Regions from separate parts of the Homo sapiens genome. Here region 2 is linked to region 1. A link means that fine-mapping ties the variant in region 1 to the expression of a gene that starts in the linked region. Tissue or cell type: tibial artery. Region 1 holds a variant in brackets; the other region holds the start of a gene. All regions are shown on one strand. Distances are between the middles of the regions.

Region 1 (5,263 bases):
GCCTCACTGTGCAGCGCCGGCCCTCCTGGGTTGACACTCCCGAGGCCCAGCCTCATTCTCCAGACGCTTCCCTTCCACAGTGATGCGTCTGGTTTTGGGGCTGCAGCCTCTGGTCTCAGAAAGCCTGCTCCTTCCACCCAGTTGTGCACGACTTTTCTCTGTTCGTTTTGGTCTCTTGGGATCTGTTCAAACCTCTGCTCGGTGTGTTGAGGGGTGAGGGGCAGGGAGCATGGTTTCCTGGAAAAAGCCCCCAGTCTCTTAAGCTGGGCAGGTGTGCTGTGGGGGGTGGGGACTGGGGCTGCTTCTGTGCTCCAGATGAGACCTCCCCCACTGCCCAACTGCACTTGGCCTGGGGCCCTCTGGATACGAATCCCTCTGGAGCAGGCACTCCAGGCTCCCTGGGGATGGGAGGGGGAGGGATGTGGGCTTGGGGGTCTGGCTGCTCCCTCATGACCTCAGTCATGGGGATCCCAGGGCAGTCTCTGAGGATCCCCAGCAATCCACGCCGGGTGCCTCCCTAGACCTTGACACCCCCATGACTCTGCAGCAGATGACCCCAAGTTCTACTCCATGAGGTCAACTTCCTTGTCCAGGCCGCAAGCTCCCAATTCCATGAGGCCTTCCTCACCCAGGCCTCCACGGCCAGGCGCCCAGCGACTTCTCCCTCGCCTCATGGGCACCTGGACTCAGTGTCCAGTAGCTGCACCCACCCCACCCTGGGAGCTGCCCTCACTCCTCCTTCAGCCTTAGGCCTGTGAGGTCTCTGTGCTTGGGGTGAGGGCAGCTGCTGCGGCCACCCTGCAGCCCTCCCAGCCACGTCTCCAGGCCCTTGCCCGTGCTGTCCCCTGTGCAGTGGGCAACCCCCACCCCACACCTGCAGCTTCTCTGGCCTCTGGATTCCTACCTGGGTCAGGGAAGCCTGCTACTCTGGAGGAGCTGTCAGCCCTGGTGAGACACCTGCCCCCAGCACATGTCTCCATGGATGATACGGGCCAACAGTTGATACCAAGGCCGATGTGCTCATCCTGTGGATCAGCTGCCGGGGAAGGAATGTTGTGTGTGGCGGTTAGCTCCATACTCCTAGAAAGCAGGCGAAGGCCAGGTGAGACGGAGACTTTCATAGAGAAAAGGTCAGATTGTGGATGATTTTCCTTCCTTCCTTTTCACAGCAATGAGAGGTTCCTCTGATGGAGATAAAGTGTGTTTCTCAGGTCTCTGGTATGCTCAGGTGTGGCAGGTTCACAGGTGTGAGGTACACTCAGGTGTGTGGTGCAGGTACCCTCAGGTACTCTGCACGTGGCTGCCATGGGGGCTCCTGTTTGCAGGCAGCTCGGGGAGGCTGCCTTGGAGAGGGGCCTCCATGAAGACTCACAAGAACAAAAGCCGCTGAAAATTCCAGAGCAGAAGTTCTTCAGCAGAGGGTGAGGAGGGCGGTGGGGCCGCTGCACCACACGCTTGGAGGACCAGCAGGGGTAGAGCGCTGGACAAACGCATGTCAGGCCGGCCTGCTGGCAAAGGAACCCCTGGATGCAGAGAGCCTGTTGGGCTGGTGGGCTGTGGCTGTTGGGAGGGACATTTCCCCGGGGAGCTCCCAGCCATCAGAAGTCAAGGGAGGGAGGCGGTGAGGAGCCTCTCGAAGCAGAAGGTGTGGAGGGGGGACTCCCCTGCTCTCCTGGCCGGAGTCACTGATACAAAACTGGGGGTCCCTGGAGGGCAGTGAGCTCACGAGTTGTGGTGGATTCCTTGTGGAGGGGGTGCCAACCCGCAGGGAAGCAGGGCTGCCGTGCCCCCTGCCCAGCCACACTGCCAGCACAGACCCCATCCTCAGGCGCCTGCAGGGAGGCCACCCACGCCTTCCTGGGTGAGGGAAGCCCCTGAGCTAAACCTCACTGCACTCTGAGGCCCCAAGGGCCAGGCAGCTGCACACAGCCTGGGCCACGTGGGGGCAGTGCGGCTGCACCACGGAGCTCTCGGGAGCTGCTGACTGACCGGGAGGACCTGCCCGACACAGCCATGGGATTTATAGCCGCAGAGAGAAGACTACAGAGAGACGGGCCTTCGCCCTTTCAGCTCTCCCTTGTCAGGCAGGCTGTGCCCTGTGACCCTTCAGAGCCTGGGTTTGGGGGTGGAGGGGGTGGACAGCTGACCA[G/T]GTGCCTGGCGCAGGCCCAGTGTGGTGAGGCTGGGTCGCGGAGGCCAGGCCAGGCCAGCGGCCACGACCACCCACCAGGGACCCTCAGCGTCACGACCCCGGTCCCAAGACCCAAGACAGCAGGACATGGGGGCACAGCCATCTCTGGGGGCCTCTCCTTCCCCCCGCTCTGGGTCCTCAGTCATCAGTGCAGACATGGAGGTGCAGGTGCACGCCGTACACCCTCACCTGGGGCCCCTGGCCCATGCCTCCCCACCCTCCCTACCCTGATCTCCCCCCACAACCCTACACCTCCCCGGACAACCCTGCACCTCCCCCAACAGCCACCCTGCACCTCCCCGCCACAACCCTGCACCTCCCCCAACAACCCTTCAACTCCCCTCTCACCTTGCACCTGCCCCTCACCCTGCACCTCCCCCCATCCTGTACCTCCCCCCTTCACCCTCCACCTACTCCCAACCCTGCATCTCCCCCCAACCCTGCACCTCCCCACATCCTTCACCTCCCTCCTCACCTGGCACCTCCCCCCATCCTTTCCCTCCCCCAATCCTTCACCTCCCCCCTCCCTTCATCTCCCCCCTCACCCTCCACCTCCCCCCCGCACCCTGCACCTCCCACCCTTACCCTGCACCTCTCCCCATCTTTTACCTCCCTCCCACCCTGCATCTCCCCCCAACCCTGCACCTCCCCCCATCCTTTATTTCCCCCCACCCTGCATCTCCCCCCAACCCTGCACCTCCCCCCATCCTTTACCTCCCCCCACCCTGCATCTCCCCCCAACCCTGCACCTCCCCCAATCCTTCACCTCCCCCCTCACCCTCCACCTCCCCCCCTCACCCTGCGGCAAGCAGAGAGCTGACTCCAGCACAGTGAACTTGGAATGATGGAATGCACCCTGGAAGCAGCTCTGACGGGCGCCACCGTGACTGTGCCCAGCAGGGAGCTCCCTTGTGGTTTTTAACAAAAGACAAAATTCCCCAGGTCCTTCTCTGTGCTACAGGAGAAACTGGTGTGGGAGAGGGAACCCAGGCGTGACCAGGGAGAAACTGGTGTGGGAGAGAGAGGGAACCCAGGCGTGACCAGGGCTGCCCAAGCGGCTCCCTGTGAGGCATCAACGCTGGAGACACAGCAGTCATGGGGAACCCGGGGAACCCGGGAAACCCAGCCGCCATCAGAGAGCCAGAGAGCCGCAGGCGCCTGTGCGGGGTCCTGGCCTGGCCCGAGGGGTCAGCACACCCCTGTCTGCCTCTGAGGTCAGGGCCCTGGGGGCTCCTGACCTGGCCTGCCTGTGGGAGGCAAAGGTGTGGCCAGGAGAGGACAGGAGGGGGCAGTCACAGTCACCACTCCTGGAGGCCCATGAAGAGCAGCTTTGCCCCCACACTTCTGTGAAGCCAACTTGGGCCTGTTTGGGAGGGGCCTGGCGCTGCAGCCGGCCGTGGGCACCTGCCATGTGGCGGTCCACTGGAGGCCAAGTCCAGCTCATATGGCTCTGGGGACCCACCGCACCAGACTCCAGTGTGGGGGTACCCGGAGCTGGGGGTGGGTCCTCGGAGGCTTCCAGTCCTGCCCCAGCTGCCATCCCTGCCAGGTGTTAGCGCCTCTGGTTCAGAGTCCCGAGAGGACCAGTGGCCCAGGAGAAAGGGGTGTGTCTCCAGCTGCTGGGAGTGTGGGTGGGAGCCAGAGGGTTCAATGACACTGGGGACAGCAAGTCCGGACTGGAGGGAGGAGACCTCCTGAACAGGGTCCCCAGCACAGAGGCAGAAAGGAGACTCTGTGACTGGGGGTGTCAGCTGCATCTGGACCTTCGTGGTGGGGAGGGAGGCACGCCCAATAGCCCGTCTGAACGGGAGGTGGCTCAGGGATCCCCCATTGTGCTGGTGGGGTGCCCAGAGACTCCAGGACTCCACGTGGGGCTCTGCCTGCTAAACCCTGAGACTTTAGGGGCAGTGGCTCCCACGGCAGGGTCATCCTTTTTCTGCACAGTCCCACTGGCTGCCCCAGGTCCTGCAGAGACCTGAGACTTTGGGGACAAGCACAGGGGACAGGTGGGCGTGGATGGCCTGTGCCGGTCAAGGGCAGTGGGAAGGAAGGAGGAGCAGTTTCCTTCTGTACCCAGGAAATAGAGTAACAAAGTGTCTCATTCCAGTTGGTTCTGGTGGGACAGGGTAGGTGGAAGGGAACCCGTGCTTGCCCTGAGACATGGGGGTGCTGTCTTCCCATGCAGGGGGACTGCGGCTCACCACCATCACATTCTACCCACAGGTTCTTATTTTAACAGATCACAAAGGTACTATGTGCTTCTTGCAAAAATTTACAGGAATTGTAGACTTTTCAAAAAGTAAAAAGAAATTAAAGTTCACCTGTTACCTCAGAGTTATCCAGCTACACATTTTCTGTGCATAATTCACTTTACAAAAATTGGATCAAGATAAAACTAATGATTTTTAAAAATACAGCAATATAGTTGCACATTGTTCCATATCAAAAAATAAATGTGTGCACCCAGGGCTCCTGGCTGTCTCAGTGGCATAGTGGCTCATGCCTGTAATCCCAACACTTTGGCAAGCCGAGGTGGGTGGATCACCTGAGGTCAGGAGTTCGAGACCAGCCTGGCCAAGATGGCAAAACCACTATCTACTTAAAAAAAAAAAAAAATTAGCCAGGTGTGGTGGCGCGCGACTGTAATCCCAGCTACTTGGGAGGCTGAGGCACGAGAATCGCTTGAGCCCTGGAGGCAGAGGCTGCAGTGAACTGAGATCGCACCACTGCTCTCAGGCCTGGGTGACAAAGCAAGACTCTGTCCCAAAAAAGCCCATTTACTCAGCTCACATTTTTGAGCCTCTGCTATTCGACAGGAACCAGAGGTGAGCAGAGCCGACTTGGTGACCCCTGGGGACAGAGCGGCAGAACTCAGCAATTCTGGGCTGCCCTGCAGGAGCTACACCCGGGGAGGGGCGGTGGCCACTTGGGGGCAGGGTGGGCTTCTCAGCTGCGCCCACCCCACCTTGGGAGCTGTGTCTGGAAAAGAGACTTTTCCTGAGCCGACAGCAGACAGCGAGTGCAAAGGCCCCAAGGCCCGCACGCCTTATTCAGAGAACAGCAGGAGGCGCGGGG
Region 2 (5,126 bases), 99 kb before region 1:
ATCACTGGTTTTCCAAAACTGGTTTTCTTTTTTTTTTTTTTTAACCCTGTTGCTCGGGCTGGAGGGCAAGTGGTGCCATCTCCACTCACTGCAGCCTCGACCTCCCAGGCTCCACTGATCTTCCCACCTCAGCCTCCTGAGTAGCTGGGACTACAGGTGTGCACCGTCACGACTTGCTAATTTTTGTATTTTTTTGTAGAGACGGGGTTTTGCTGTGTTGCTCAGGCTGGTCACTCGATCTGCCCACCTGGGCCTCGCAGAGTGCTGGGGTTACAGGTATGAGCCACCACGCCCAGCCCACTGGTTTCCTTTACACCCGTTTTGTTCCCCAGCAGTCCTTATGAGGGCACCTGAAATAAGGAACCTCCTCCCCGACTTGAGAGCAGCAAAGCCTTCAGAGGGAACTAAGTTATTAAAACCCACCCCACACAAAATGCTTCTAAACGCCTTGGCTGACTTAATCCTTGCAGTGTGCTGAGGTTAAGTATGATTATCCATCTCCTGTGAACAGGAAGACTGAGGCTCAGAGCTTAAGTGATTTGCCCACGGTTCACTGCAGGGGATAAAACTCGGCTGTCCCTGGCAGGTCCCAAAGTCACGGCCTTCAGGCTCCCACACCATGCTGCCTCCCTCACCGGGGCTCCACACTCTCAGCCTGGAAAACACGAATTTTAAGAAAACCATGACTTACGAAAAGCAGCCAATCCCAGCATTGGAACCAACAGGGCATAATTCCACCTGCTTCCATCACCACCATCCGCCCTGGAATTAGGCCGGATATTCCAATTTGGGGGATCATTTAGGTTATTCATGGAGATATACCTTGAAGTAAAGAATAAAAACGTTAACTACTTTTATTCAAGAAATTTTTCTTCAGTTTTAACTATGTGCTTGCTGCACAGCACTGAGGCCCTACGGGATTCAAAGAAGAAAAAAACTAGACCAGAGCCGGGCATGGTGGCGGGCACCTGTAGTCCCAGCTACTCGGGAGGCTGAGGCAGGAGAATCGCTTGAACCTGGGAGGTGGAGGTTGCAGTGAGTCGAGGTCGCGCCACTGCACTCCAGCCTGGTGACAGAACGAGACTCCGTCCCCCCCAAAAAAAAAGAAAAAGAAAAAGGAAAAAAAAAACAAGAACTTAAGATGAAAGCGACTCACAATCTGGTTGGGGAAAGTGGAGAAAACAGACATGTCTTAAGCATCTGAAGTGCAGGTAGAATCAGGTAAGTTCTCTGGTACAAATATGTTTAAATGTATGGCTGCTGCGATGGTTAATTTTGTTTGTCAACTTGACGGCATCATGAGGTGCTCAGATACATGGTTAAGCATTATTTCTGGGCGTGTCTGTAAGGGTGTTTTTGGATGAGATTAGCAATTGAACCTTTAAACCAATTCCTCACGTCTCCCTTCTATTTGTTGTGTCTCTGGAGAACCCTCATACAGTTGTATCAAAGATACAGAATCAACTCGATAAAAGTGGGCTCACACCGGACACTTTCATATGAGCTAGGGTTTGAAGAGTGAGCAGCATTTTGACAGGCAGAGAAAGAAGGAAAGGGTCTTCTGATCAGAAGGAAGACTGTGAGGAAGGCAGGGAGGGGTGATGTGGGGAAGGTGCAAACAGTGCTAGAAGCTTCTGAGGCCTCCTCGTGGTGGTGATGAATGCAGAGATTACAGAGTTCTCTGCTTCGGGCTCAGCATGCACCCTCCATAGCTAGGCTGGGGGCTAACGTTAGTAAGAATTTACTGATTTACTGAGTACCTACACGAAGTTTCACATTTTCACAAAGTAGAGTCACTTTAAGTTTGTTTACATGTGACCTCCACAAACACACACAATTACAAAATAGTTTAGTTAATCAAGGGATGTATAATAAACAAGAGGTCGGAGGCCCCGGGCCGCTCCCGCCCACCTCCGCGGACGAGCGCCCCCCTCCGACCCCATTCCCTGCGGTCTGGGCGTTCAGGCCCTTCGGTCTGGGCGATCCCGGAGAACCACCCACGGGGCTTTAAAAATGTTGGTGCCCACCACCTCCCCGGAACAGGGCCCGCTCTACCTCGGTCGGGGAGCGCGGGACCTCAGCGTTCCCTTAACGCCACCGTCCGCGGGTCCGCTTTGCGCAGGCGCGGCGCCCCCACTCAGTACCCGCTCCGGGCGTGGCATGGTGCGCAGGCGCGATGTCCCCCACTGCAGCCCCGCTCGACTCCGGCGTGGTGCGCAGGCGCGGTATCCCCCCTCCCCCGCCAGCTCGACCCCGGTGTGGTGCGCAGGCGCAGTCTGCGCAGGGACTGGCGGGACTGCGCGGCGGCAACAGCAGACATGTCGGGGGTCCGGGGCCTGTCGCGGCTGCTGAGCGCTCGGCGCCTGGCGCTGGCCAAGGCGGTGAGTCCGTGCCGCGGACCGGGGCGGGGCAGGCGGGGGCCGAGGCGGCGGTAGGAGCGGGACGGTCCCCAGCGGGTCCGAGCGGAGCGGGCGCCGGGTCCCTGCGCCCTCTGTCCCGGGATCGGGAAGGGGCTGAGAGAGCCCTGGGCCGGTGCGAGGGGAAGCCGCGGGGCGGACTCGGGGACCCGGGGAGCTCGGTCCTTAGTAGATAGTCCGCGTCCGGGTGAAGGTCACAACCCCGCGGGCTTGCTGGGCGTCCCCTCCGCCGCCTTGGTCCGGGCCTGGGGTCCTGGGACCCCGCGGGCTGAGGTAGCCCCTCGCCTCAGTGCCTGGCAGGTGGACTCGGGGAGGAGTCGTGTCTGCCCAAGGTCACCCGGGCGGATAGCGGCCGGTGGCCGCCCTGGCTGGGCTGGGCCTCTGCCGCCCTCTGTGCGGGTTGTCCTGAGGAGCAGCCCGCAGCCCGTGGGTGGGGCCGGCGGGGCGGGTGAGACCGCCCGGGTGGGTGCGAGGAGTGGCCGGGCTCGGCCCGGTGGGCGTCCGGTGGGAAGCGTGGCGCGCCCGAGCTTAGGCTTGCAGTTCGCCTTTCCAGAAAGCGCAAATCTGTCCATGTCCACTTCGAGACCTTGTAAGTTAAGGGCTTCTACTTTGGGTCGTGTTTGGTGGTCCTTATGCCACCAAAAATGTGCCAGTGTTTAAAAGCAGCTGTGCCAGTTTTTAAAACTCAGGCGGAGAGCTCAGCGCACTGACCGGGCGAGGACGCCGGGACCTGTGCTTGCCTGTGCGCTGAGTGCCTCTAGGGCCGGGCTCGGCTTAGTCCAGGATGGTGGTCAGGGTTATACTTCCCTGAGCCCTTGCTCTCTGAGTGTCTGAATGTGCCCTCTACGATTGCATCTTAAGAATCGGCCTTCTAGGGTTTTATTTAATCAAGCTAAATTGGATAGGTTTAGTTGTTTGGTTCTTTTAAATGAACTTACCCACCCACCTCCTTAATTACAAAGTAATTTTAAATTGCAGAATAAAAATCTCAATAGGAACCAAGGCATTCAGCAATATTGATTTGAATTATGCCTGTAATTGTGCAATTTTCTCCTTTTTGAAATACTTATTAAAAATCTCGTTGAGTTAAATGTGAGGATTAGTCATACAGCCATCCTGCCAACATCAGAAAGCGTGTAAACCGTTCTAGTGTGTTGCTGTGGTTGGTACTGACTGAGCAGAGACCCCTGCCGCATCTTGGGCTTTTAAGAGCTGCTAGGAGGGCGTCCACAAGCAGGAAGGAAAGCCCATGGTCAGTGGGGCTTTTTAGGGGAAATGGTAGCTTGTGATTGGAGAAAAGCTAGAGCTAGTGCCTTTGTCCTCAACCCAGATGGTGCCCGGTGTTCCTTCTGCAGACTAAGACCCTGCCAGCGGCGGAGGCACCTCAGACGGGATGGCAAGATAGCAAAATTGAACCAAAATTTAGTCTTGGGTTTTGTAAAAGTCTTTTTATCTTGATGAAGTTAGCTTTTCCTACAGAAATTCTGCCTGCAAGCAGCATATTTATCGGCATTTCAGATAGGCTTTTTTTCCTGAAGAATTGGAGTTTACGAAGGAACAGCATAATCAAAAAATTAGCAGAAAAAAGAAAGAAATTCGTGATAGCCAACTGAGAAATGTGTTTGGAAAATAGATGCTGAGGATAATTTCAGTAAAGTCCAGAGAGAATTTTTTAACCTCATTTTGGCCAGTTCTGTGGTGTTTTGATCATTCTGTATTTACAACTGCTTTCAAGTGACGAACTTATCAGACTTATTTTGCTTTTGGTTTCTTTTTATGGCCCAGTGCACTGACACAGCTTGCAAACTGTTCGAAAGCAGTTTAATCAGAGGAAAAAGAAAACCAAGAAACTTCAATAGTTACTGGTTAACTGCTTACTTCAGGTGAAGTTTTTCAAATCCCTTAACATGAACATCCAATATATTGTTCTAGGACAAATTGATTTCTTTTCTTTGAATGGATTGTTCTGAATATGTTTAATGGTGTTCTAGAAATACATTATTTAGGCCATTATAGTAGTAAACCTTTGCTTTGCTTCTTGGGATAATTGTAACAACAATGGCATTCCATTCTGCATTCCTCATGATGTTTTTCCTGATTTATTTGAAAAATTGTGACTTGTTTTTTGATATGAAACCTGGATATTAATATTAGTTGGGAGTCTCAGAGATTTTTCCCAAGGGTCTTTAGATAGGGGGGCAAGTCCAGGATCCAGAGCCAGGCCGGCCGACTTGAATCCTCTCTGAGCTCCGTCTTTCCGTGGGGTTAGTGAGGATTCTGTGGGTAATGTTTGAAACCTTTGGTGATGCTCTTGAGAACCAGGGCTCACAGCCTATGCACAGTAACCATGTGTGAACTGAATTTTTTTTTTTTTTTGAGACAGAGTCTCACTCTGTCACCCAGGCTGGAGTGCAGTGGCGCAATCTCGGCTCACTGCAAGCTCTGCCTCCCGAGTTCACGCCATTCTCCTGCCTCAGCCTCCTGAGTAGCTGGGACTACAGGCACCTGCCATCATGCCCGGCTAATTTTTTTGTGTTTTTAGTAGAGACGGGGTTTCACCATGTTAGCCAGAATGGTCTCCATCTCCTGACCTCGTGATCCGCCCGCCTCGGTCTCCCAAAGGGCTGGGATTACAGGTGTGAGCCACCACGCCCGGCCGAACTGTATTTTAAGTATCCCTGTTTTTAAAATAATAAACACTAAAATTCT

Which allele goes with the higher level. Alleles are on the strand shown, and positions count from the first base shown. SD is a standard deviation of normalised expression in the study named.
As copies of G replace T in region 1, the expression in tibial artery of the gene that starts at base 2,116 in region 2 goes down (moderate effect, 0.52 SD a copy in GTEx).

The links. PIP is the estimated chance that this variant, and not a neighbour inherited with it, causes the effect.
Region 2: it holds the start of CCDC127, and the variant in region 1 is fine-mapped to the expression of CCDC127 in tibial artery (GTEx, PIP above 0.99). The same link has a PIP of 0.9 or more in lung, pancreas, spleen, thyroid and transverse colon.

What each region holds. Positions count from the first base shown.
Region 1 is chr5:315,364-320,626 of GRCh38, forward strand. All of the region lies in intron 3 of PDCD6-AHRR (PDCD6-AHRR readthrough (NMD candidate)), which reads left to right. Among named protein-coding and RNA genes, the nearest start is that of AHRR, 3.7 kb to the right of the region's middle. RefSeq lists an enhancer at 3,154-3,453. The variant G/T (reference allele first, on the strand shown) is at 2,150.
Region 2 is chr5:216,038-221,163 of GRCh38, forward strand. It overlaps CCDC127 (coiled-coil domain containing 127), which reads right to left and starts at 2,116. Exons shown (of 3, transcript NM_145265.3): 1 at 2,056-2,116; 2 at 692-822. The coding sequence starts at 812. It overlaps SDHA (succinate dehydrogenase complex flavoprotein subunit A), which reads left to right and starts at 2,283. Exons shown (of 15, transcript NM_004168.4): 1 at 2,283-2,381. The coding sequence starts at 2,319. RefSeq lists silencers at 2,094-2,423, 2,654-2,893 and an enhancer at 2,293-3,101.